Regions from separate parts of the Homo sapiens genome. Here region 2 is linked to region 1. The links come from fine-mapping of genetic effects on gene expression. A gene starts in region 1. The other region holds a variant in brackets. All regions are shown on one strand. Distances are from middle to middle.

The links. PIP is the estimated chance that this variant, and not a neighbour inherited with it, causes the effect. A credible set is the group of variants that fine-mapping cannot tell apart.
Region 2: its variant is the best candidate, but not a certain one, in a credible set for the expression of SEC14L2 in whole blood (INTERVAL, PIP 0.72).

Annotation. Positions count from the first base shown.
Region 1 is chr22:30,394,429-30,399,792 of GRCh38, forward strand. SEC14L2 (SEC14 like lipid binding 2) reads left to right here and starts at 2,590. Exons shown (of 12, transcript NM_012429.5): 1 at 2,590-2,742; 2 at 5,215-5,290. The coding sequence starts at 2,689. RefSeq lists silencers at 2,833-2,902, 2,923-2,982.
Region 2 is chr22:30,296,830-30,302,193 of GRCh38, forward strand. TBC1D10A (TBC1 domain family member 10A) reads right to left here. Exons shown (of 9, transcript NM_031937.3): 3 at 2,615-2,722. Among named protein-coding and RNA genes, the nearest start is that of CASTOR1, 10 kb to the left of the region's middle. The variant T/A (reference allele first, on the strand shown) is at 3,402.

The DNA.
Region 1 (5,364 bases):
TAGTTTCACCATGTTGGCCAGGCTGGTCTCAAACTCCTGAACTCAGGTAATCCACCCGCCTCAGCCTCCCAAAGTGCTGGGATTACAGGCGTGAGCCACTGTGCCTGGCTAGGTTTTTTTTTTTTTTTTTTTTTTTTTTGAGACAGAGCCTTGCTTTGTCGCCCAGGCTGGAATGCAATGGTGCCATCTTGGGTCACTGCAGCCTCCACCTCCTGGGTTCAAGCGATTCTCCTGCCTCAGGCTCCCAAGTAGCTGGGACTACAGGTGTGTGCCACCATGCCTGGCTAATTTTTTTTTTTTTGGTATGTTTAGTAGATACGAGGTTCACCATGTTGGCCAGGCTGGTCTTGAACTCCTGACCTCAGGTGATTCACCCACTTCAGCCTCCCGAAGTGCTGGGATTACGGGTGTGAGCAACCGAGCCTGGGCCTATTTAGGATTTATATGATCAAATTAACTAGCTGTTTTATGGTGGGCCAGAAGTAGGTTAAGTCTCAGTGGAGGAAGAAGAAAGAGGCAGCTGTTGAACCTGGGAAGGGCAGGCCTGGGGAAGGGTTCTTTACCGAGGCTTTTATTTGGGTAACTTCAGATGCGGGGAGGGCTGTATCCTGCTGGGTGAAGGTGATCTTGTACTTTCGTGGGTAACTTTCGCAGGCAGTTCCCAGGCCCGTCCACACCTTGGCCTGGGAGCATACGGCCTAGAAACCACAAACTTGGGTTTAAGTCCCAACTCTGCACGTGCCCACCTATGACCACCTCTCCCTCAGGCTCCTCAATAAGTCACCTGACCTGCCTACCTTAGAGGATTGTCCCACACTTAAGTGACAAGCTAGATCTGAAGGTACCTTGTGAGCTCTAAGTTGCTGAACCAATATAAGAGGCTGTGCTTCTTGTTTTTATTTTTTGTTTGTTTGTTTTTTTTTTTTAGAGGGAGTCTTGCTCTGTCGCCCCAGACTGGAGTACAATGGTGTGATCTCAGCTCGCTGCATCCTCTGCCTCCCAGGTTCAAGCAATTCTCCCACCTCAGCCTCCTGAGTAGCTGGGACTACAGATGCACACCACCACGCCTAGCTAATGTTTGTATTTTTAGTAGAGACGGGGTTTCACCATGTTGGCCAGGCTAGTCTCAAACTCCTGACCTCAGGTGATCTGCCTGCCTTGGCCTCCCAAAGTGCTGGGATTATAGGTGTGAGCCACCGCGCCCGGCCAAGATGCTGTTCTTCTATAATAGTTTCCTTTGAGTAGGCTCTAGCCTGGAAAGAATATCCTGGCCCTGGAAGGGTCTTATATAAAGATCTTAGCCATGTATCCAGTAAGGAAGGCAGCCCTGTCCTGCCCCAGGCCAGAAGCCAGCGAGCCTAACTAGGGCAGAACTGCCTGAAAACTCTCTGTAGAGGTGGGCGTTGGGGGCCTCAACCCTCACTCTGCACCCTGCAGCAGGCGTCTATGGAGGGGGCCACACCAAGGGCAGAGCAAAGTCCTTAAATGTCTTTAACAGGCCTGGTGCCTTTGCCTCCAGGTAAGGAGAGAGACTGGGGACATTCTGCTTTGTCTCTCCCAGAGACTTGAGTGTTGAGGGGGCAGAAGTATGGCTCTGGGAGACGAGATGCCCACAGACTCCTGGACCTAGCTCTGCATTAATTCCAGGCCATAAGGGGAGGGCACAGCTGAGCACTTTCCATGTGCCAGGCAGTGGGCACTCCACATATGTCATGCCACTAACAACTTTGGGCAAGCCATGCCTTATCTGGGCCTCAGTTTCCCTAGCTGTTAAACGAGGTAAGTTGCATGATCCCTGAATGATCTATGTTTCTCTCTCCCTCTCAGGGTTCTGCCAGCCCCGGGATCTGTGTCTCTATTGGAGCAGTTCTTACATTCATTCATTCATTCAGGATACATTTATTAATAATCCCTGTAGGCTGGGCACCGTGGCTCACATTTGTAATCCTAGCACTTTGAGAGGCCGAGGCGGATCACTTGAGGTCAGGAGTTCGACACCCGCCTGGCCAACATGGTGAAACCCCATCTGTACTAAAAATACAAAAATTAGCTTGGCATGGTGGCGTGCACCTGTAATCCCAGCTACTCGGGAGGCCGAGGCAGGAGAATAGCTTGAACCCGGGAGGCGAAGGTTGCAGTGAGCCGAGGTCGTGACACTGCACTCCAGCCTGGGTGACAGAGCGAGTCTCCGTTTCAAAAAAAAAACAATGCAAAAACAATCCCTGTGTGCAGGATGCTGTGCTGTCCTGCACTATGCGAGCCTGGTTAGAAGAGCTCATTAGATAGCACCTTTCAATCCCTCCTTGTTCAGAGGCCCAGAGAGCTCAGGTGTCTCTTCCAAGGTCACACAATGAGGTAAGGATAAATTTGGAACTAAAACTGAGACTCCCTGCCCTTCTGATGCCCACTGGCCTCAGTCCCAGTGGGCACACTTGCTCGCCTCCTGCCTGGGTCTCTGACTTCAGGAGGGCGGAGGGGGCCCGTGTCAGAGCCTTCCGCGCCCCAGCGCATCGCTCCCTACTCCGCCTCTCGGGATCCTTTAAGAGGCGGGGCTTGGCTGCCAGCTCCGCGGCCCGGGCAAAAGGCTGGGACTTTACTCCGGGTGGCGGCGAGGACGAGTCTGTGCTCCATCAGCTGCCGCACCCGCCGCCTCCCGCCCCCAAACCCCATCCCCGCGGTTGAGCCACGATGAGCGGCAGAGTCGGCGATCTGAGCCCCAGGCAGAAGGAGGCATTGGCCAAGGTGAGCTGTAGCCCTGGCCCGGGCTCCCGCCTCGGGCTGTGGCCCTCGCCCTCCTGCGGCAGCGAGAAGGGACGGGGCTGGGTGGGGGCCGAGGGTCCGTGGCGGGCGGCGGAGGGAACAGAGGCGGCTGTCCCAGCCTGGCCCGCGCCCGCGGATGGCTCCTTCCTCCCTTTGCCACCCTCGAGGTCCCAGGAAGTTTGGCCACCCCCCGCCCAAGCTCTGAGCAGCCGTGGCGGTGCCACCTGGGGACAAGTGGTTGCTTGTGAGTCCCCGGAGGCCGCTGAGGGCACAAAGGCAACATTCATCCTCGGGACTGGCAGCCGGGCCCTGGGGCAGGGGCAGGGGCAGGGGCCCAAGTTTCCTCCCATTTCCGGGAGGCTTTCTTCTTGTAGGGTCAGTGGCACGATGGAAAGGGCTCTGGATAGCTCCTTGGGAGACTTGGATAGCTCCTGCCCCGGCACCAAGCCGCTGTGCGACCTTGGGCAAAACCCTGCCCTTCTCTTTGCTCCTCGATGCCATGGAATGAGGAGGTTGGACCAGATGATGTTGAAGGGAACACCTCCGTGTGTGAATTCCAGGCTCCCCCCATGAGGCACTGGGTTGGTGTTAGTTTGAGCTGAGACCAGCCGTCCCCTATCTTGCATCCCAGACCCCTGCCTGGTTCAGGACTTAAGGTTTATGCTCCTCAGAAGGCAAGAAGGTGAGCCTGGCTTTGCCTTGGCATCTGTGACAAGGAGGGGGCAACAGTTTGAGGGCGGGACCTTCCTCTTCACGAACTAAATCTCTTATCTGTCACCCCTGGGGAGTGAGGAGGTCGGCTCTTCTCTGGGCAAGAGCCGATAGGGTCTGGCCCCAAGATTTGGAGGCTCCACAGCTGGGGAGTTTTCCATGGCTGGGAAAGGTGGGGCGGGGGGCAGATGTATCCTGCCACTGGCAGCAGTGGGGAGGCACCAGCTCCATAAAGCCTCTGTCCCAGGCTGGGCCTCCCCCATCCCAGGAAGGCTGGACAGGGAGGCTTCAGATTTTACTGCTGACTCGCAGGAGAGGTCAGGCAGAGAAGGGATTAGGTGGTGATTAAACTGGAGACCAGGGGCTGGTTAGGGTCCTTGGAGAGGGGTAGCTTCATGCCTGCAGTTTGGAGGAGCAGTTTCCCTGGTGCACTGGGAGCTGCTTTGTGGGGTGGGATGGTCTGAGTCCCTGGCTGACCTAGGCAAGGGGCAGAGGTGGCCAGTCCTCATTAGTGTCCTCTGGGACTGCCCTCTAGGTCAGTGGTCAGGGAAAGGTGAATGGCTGGGAGCAGGAGGCTCAGGGAGGGCATATAGGGGCCTGTTCGCCTACCAGGGAGTGAGAGGTTGGAGGTAGGTGTGGCTGTCCATTGAGGTCACTGTCCACCTCCTTTGTTTGGCACTACCTGCACTTTCCCGCTTCCTGGCTTCCCCTACTGGAACTGTTCCCTCCACCTGAGTTGCCCACCTCTCTCCCCCGCTGCCTTTGAAGTCCTTCAAGCCCAGCACAAATGCCATGTTTTATAGGAAGCCGTGTGAGACCACCTCTTTCTTCCCTCTGCTCCCCAGCAAACTCCTCATCCTTCCATGGGGCAGAAGACCATGGTGGAAAGAGTGTGTGCTCTGGACTCAGACAGACCCGGGTTTGCATCCCAACTCTGCTAATGACTAGCTGTTTGACCTTGGGCATGTTACTTAGCCTCTCTGAGCTTTAATTCCTTCATCTGTAGAATGGGGACAATACTTCTACGGGTTGTGAGTGAGGAGTAAATAAGCTATGGTGCCAAGATCAGCGCTGAGCGACAGGAAATGCTTGGTAAACTGACAGCTTTTACTGCAGTCCGTATCAGAGTGCCTACTATCACGATTAGCTGGGAACACATCTGCCTGCCCGCAGACTGGTGTGTGGGAGCCCTTGTTGTGGGGCAGGGGCAGTGTCTCACTCCCTTCCCACTTCCTGCCCTGCAACCTGGCACCCCCTGACAAGACAGTGCTCCAGGCAGCATGAGTGCCCAGGGAGTGTCTGCAGAGTTGAACTATGTTAAAGAGAAGTCCAGTTGGCCGGGCGTGGGGGTTCATGCCTGTAATCCCAGCACTTTAGACCGAGATGGGCGGATCAGGACGAGGTCAGGAGATCAAGACTACCCTGGCTAACACGGTGAAACCCTGTCTCTACTAAAAATACAAAAAATAGCCAGGCGTGTTGGCAGGCCCCTGTAGTCCCAGCTACTTGGGAGGCTGAGTCAGGAGAATGGTGTGAACCCGGGAGGCAGAGCTTACAGGGAGTGGAGATCGCCCACCGCACTCCAGCCTGGGCGAGAGTGCGAGACTCTATCTCAAAAAAAAAAAAAAAAAAAAAAAAGAAACAAAGAAAGAGGCGTCCAGCAAAGATCTCAGTGGAGAGTCCTAGGCAGAGGGCAGCAGTCAGGGCGGGCCCTACCACTCACCCCGATGCCTCTCCCTACAGTTTCGGGAGAATGTCCAGGATGTGCTGCCGGCCCTGCCGAATCCAGATGACTATTTTCTCCTGCGTTGGCTCCGAGGTGAGGGAAGAGGGGCTGCGGGAGGCTGGGGCAGGGGCTTGTTCTGGGCAACAGAATAGCACCCTCTGAAAACC
Region 2 (5,364 bases), 98 kb before region 1:
AATAAGGAGGAAGCCCAGAGGGCTGAGCAGGGAAGCAGAGTATTCACCAGAGGAACCAGAATGTGCTGAAAGGTGTGGCCCAGGCACCTTCATGGGAGTGTTGGTTTAAGTACAAGTTGCCTGCAGGGCAGGGGCAGCATCAGGGAAGGCCCTCAGGAGGGAGGCCAGGTCCTCAGCAAACATACCCAGTGGGCGCAGACACAGGCCCTGCCCTGACGAGCAGGTGACTTCATACAAGCCCCTTTCCCTCTCTGGCCCTCAGTGGGAGTGTCCTAGCATTAAGCTCAAGAACCTAGGGTGCCAGGAACTTGACTAGAGGGTAAGGACTGAGAGGAGCGGCTGACAGAGTGTTCAGGGCTGGAGGGGACAGGGAGGGGCTGGGGCCTCCACACAGAGCCCTAGAGCAGGCACATAGCGGAGCGGTGGATGCGTGCCTCTGGGGCCCCACACACCCTTGTGATGGGGGTCTGTGTACTGTGCACCTCTAAGTACTGTCTGAGCGCAGTGCAGGTTTGCTTTTGTCAGAATGGGGAAGAGGGCCCCACAAATTCTCCTAGCAGTTCCCATGAGGTAGGAACCCGAAAACCCCGGAAGTCAGTTCCTAGGATGTGTTCATCTGGCACTTCAGCAGCCTAAGGCACTTGGCCACACATGGTTGGTGAGAAAGGAAAAGAGGGTAGCTGCAGATCGAAAGGGCACCGGCAGACAAGCAGGTACCATGGTCATGGGGCCTGTAGCCTCCACCAGCCTGAGGGGTACTGGCGCCATCATAAGGTGAAGCCAGAGAAGAAAGCCAGGTAAAAAAGGACAGGAGGTCCTGCCTGCCCAAGGAAGGAGGAAGAAATAGCACGTGCAGGAGAAGGAGCCACCAGCACCTGCAGAGCCTGCCCTGAATGCTGAGGTTGGGATGGGCCACCTGGACTGGGTATTGAATGGAGGGCCCTGTGGGGAGAGAGCACAGAAACAGGTGCATGCTGCCATCACCAGACCCCCACTGTGCCCTGCCTCGGCACAGGACCCGCAGCAACCAGGGGAAGCTCCTCATGCTTCCTCTGGGTCACCCACAGGCAAAGTCTTTCCAGGTGTGCTCACAAACCATTCTTCCAGCCCCCAGAACCATGCAGGAACCCGTCACTCAGCTTCGGTGCATCAAGAAGGCCTTCTCTGCAAATCCACCTCCTCACACAAGCAACTTTCCAGACCCCCTGGGGGGTGGCTGATTCTTCTCTGGAAGCACAGCTCTACACACACATGCACACAGCTCTGTGTTCTGCTGCACACACACTCATGCTTGCTGAACCACACAGCCAAGAGGCTGACCAGGCTGCCCACGCTCTTGGCTCTCATGCCTGGCTCTGGCAGCCTGATTTTAACTATGGACTTGGACTGAGGTTCCCACCCCTGAGCCTCCCACTTTGCCCAGGATGCGGCCCCTCGAAATGGAAGAGATGTAGCCACTAGGAGGAAGACTCTGGAGTCAAGAGGCTGCTCCAGTGTGGCCTGGTATTGGTGCTCTGGGGAATAATCCAATCAGCCAGATTCAGACCTACCCCAGCCAGACACTCTACCAGCTTCCCTGCCCCTGCAAGTCCACGTGTTGCCAGCAAAAAGCTCTCGCCCTCTCCAGGTCAACAGCAGAAACTCTAGGCTACCTTGCCCTGCTCCTGCCCAGTCATCTCAAGGAACAGGTTTGGCAAGACTGGAGTGTTCAATGAAGAAGCATGAGATATGTCAACAAAGAGCTGGTGGTAGGCAGCTCTGCTCTGTCTCACTGTCTGCCTGTCACCAGTCCCAAGGGCCTGCGAGAAACCCCGATGCCTGCGGCCAGATCTGGCAGGTAAGCCGGGGCAACCCCAGGGAATCCAACTGCTTCCCCATAGTTCCCTGGGGGAGCAGGCTGGAGGAGCTGCCCAGCTCTGAATGGAGAGGTATTTTACTCTGGCCAGCCATGGGGCAGGGAGCAGCAGGAGGGATATCGGGACAGGAGGAGGGATAACAACAGAGGGCACCCTCTCTGGCCACTGACTGGCGTCTGACCCCTTGAGCTACTTGGGCAGTTCCCTTCAGCCCCCTTGGGTTTGGCTCTGCTACTCCTAGGGCTGATGACCCCACAAGACACACAGGTGGGCTGTGCTGGCCAGGCTTGGACAAGGCAGGAGAAAGTAGAGGATGGGAGGCCGGGAGACACTGAAGGACCTGTGGTCCTGCTAGTCAAGCCCCCATAGGCCCAGGGCACAGGGCCCAAGGCAGTCAGGGAAATGGTCTGAGTGTCCCCTCCTGATGACCAAGAGCAGGGAGGTAGCCTACTGAGCCCAGGAAAGCAAAACCTGAGTGGTCATCAAGAGAAAGAGCTGGAATAGGGGGTACCAAATCTGGCCATTCCACTGAGGGCTGCTCAGGGCTGGAGCCTCAGTTGTACAGACCCTCCAGGAGACACAGGTACCCAGGACTGGGCCGGTCTGGCCTGCTGGGGCCTGGGCAGTTGGGCACATGACTGGAGGTTTCATGGACTGCTCATCCTGTGAGGTTCAGGTGAGCACATGGAGGATTGCCGCCATGGGGAGGACGCCAAGAGATGCGGAAGGGAGGGCAGGGCAAAGGAAGGGAAACTTACGTCAAACTTTCCAGGGTTCTGCTGTAACTTCACCTTGCCTCCTGACAGGTACTGCCAAGCACGGCCCCGCAGAGAAGGCGGGATGCCCTTTTGGCACCGCAGACGAATCTGAAAATCAAAAGGACAGCTGAGCCCATGCAGCCACCCAGGCAGCTCCCCTAGCCCAGCCCCTCTGCCAATGCGTGGTGGGCCCTCAGTGCACACAGCAGCAAGAGCAGAAACAGGGAGAAAAGAGGACTTTCGCCGGGCAAGGTGGCTCACGCCTGTAATCCCAGCACTTTGGGAGGCCGAGGCGGGTGGATCACCTGAGTTCAGGAGTTTGAGACCAGCCTGGCCAACATGGTGAAACCCCGTGTCTACTAAAAATACAAAAATTAGCTGGGTGTGGTGGCGGGCGCCTGTAATCCTAGCGACTCGGGAGGCTAAGGCAGGAGAATCATTTGAACCCGGGAAGCAGAGTTGCAGTGAGCCAAGATCGTGCCATTGCCCTCCAGCCGGGTGACAAGAGCAAAACTCTGTCTCAAAAAAAAAAAAAGGACTTTTCCTACTGTTGCTACCATGCCAATCCTATGGTGCGGGGAGAGGAGGTGCCTGCAATTAGATATGCTAACACCAGGTGATGGCAGGGTCCCACATCCCTGGTGACAACACAGGCATTCCTGAGGTTTGCCATGGAATTCCAGACCCTCATAACTATCTTCTGAATCAAAATGGAACCCTATAGGCGGGCACGCTGGCTCACACCTGTAATCCCAGCACTCTGGGGAGCCGAGAAGGGCAGATCACT[T/A]AAGGTCAGGAGTTCGAGACCAGCCTGGCCAACATGGTGAAACCCCGTCTCTACTAAAAATACAAAAAATTAGCCAGGCATGGTGGTGGGCGCCTGTAATCCTAGCTACTTGGGAGGCTGAGGCACGAGAATCGCTTGAACCCAGGAGGTGGAGGTTGCAGTAAGCTAAGATCGTGCCACTGCACTCCAGCCGGGGCGACAGACCGAGACTCTGTTTCAGGAAAAAAAAAAAAAAAAAGGAAAAGGAACCATTACAAGTTGGGTGAACCCCATAGTCTGTCACCAGGGAGGGCATTGCACTGTGTGCGGCTCAGCTGCAGCCACAGGGAAGGTAGCTCATGAGATGAACCAGAATGTGCCCAGAGGTGTGGCCTGGGCACTTTCACGCAGGTATGTTGGTTTCAGCAGCCATGTGGCAGGATACCGCCAGCCTAGAGGGGAGAAATCTCAGCAGAACTCTGAAGGAAGATGGGAGCTGCTCAAATGGCTCCCTCTTTGTTTTGGTCAAGAATCCCCACTCTCCTCTCGTTGACCCTGAGCTCCCAACATCACCAGCCTGGGGCATAGGCAGCTGGCCTGAGTGTGAGTCCTGATCTCAGCCCTTGCTAAAATGGCCCAGGTCTTCTCTGCCACTCGTAGAATGGGAGAAGTGAGGGAGGAAGTATTTGAGGCAGCTCATGACCCAGAGCTAGTGCTCAATTCCGGCTAGCTGTTTTTATCAGGAAAAGTTTTCACTGGCAAAACTCAATTTGAAAAACTATCAAAACGATCATGTCTTTTACAAATGGGGCATTGAGGGTAGGGGAAAATTCGTGGGGGAAATTTCATCACACAAGCAGAGTGGGGGTAAATTTGTCATACAATCAGAAACCCTACTACCTCCTAGCTGCACCGCACAGGCTGGAGGGACCCAGCCCCGTGTACTTTCTACATCACCAGTGGGCTCCTCCTGGGCTTGGGACCAGAATGAGGCTCTGAAGGCAGTTGCCCTGACCCGTCAAGGTGGGCAAGGACAAAGGCAGAGGCATCACTCCTGTGAAATGCTGTGGTGGGGGAGGGGTGAGATGGCCAATGATACTCCCTCAACCCCTGCACTAAGCAGCCTGACCTGGGATAAAGGGGATGGGCGCTCGGGGCATGAGAAGAACATCTGGATGTGGGTTTGAATCTAGCGCTGACCTTAAGCCAACCACTTCTCAACTGTAAGATCTGAATAATACCTACTACTGTGCAGAGTTGTCAAAGGAGTCCATTAGAGAGGGAAAATGTGCTTAGTGTGGGGCCTGACACAGTCTGTGTTCAGTAAGCAATGGCTTCCTCTCTGCCCCTCCATCCCAGGAGGATGCTTGACACAGAAGCCCAGGACCTCAGCTCACACCTAACTTCCCCTCACCTAGAAACCCCCTTCAACAGTCCTGCTGGAAGCTCTCAGAGGAGGGAGTACAGAAGCCCTGGCCTTCCTGGGGACCAGTGCAAACAAGAGAAAACTTTCCAAGGGTCAGAGAGAGTCAAGAACCAGGAAGGAGCCAGGCAAACAGGCTGAGGGTGGTGGGGGAAGAGTAGCAGTGGCTGGTCACAGGTGCCAAGTGAGAGCTTCTGGGACTGCCTAGAAAGGAGGCAGAGGAAGGGGGCTGAAGGGAACTGCACTAGACGCAAGGAAGAGTTTCCTGCGGCTATGGGACAAGGGTCTCCTTAAGGAAGCCAACTTGGGCAGGCTTTGGCAAAGGGATGTGCTTTAGCCCAAAGCCACAGGCCCTTCAGGCTCTCCCACAGAGCTAAGCTCAGCAAGAGGCAGCCCCACATCATCACAGCCCCCATCATATTTGGCCTTCTCCAGGAGAGCCCTGGAACACTTCGCGGGCAGCAAAGAGCTGGGAGTACAGCCAGCCTTTCCCACTCTGGCCTCCTCAGCATAAAGGTGCTGGAGGGGGTCATCTCTACCCTGCCTGCCTTAGGGAGGATG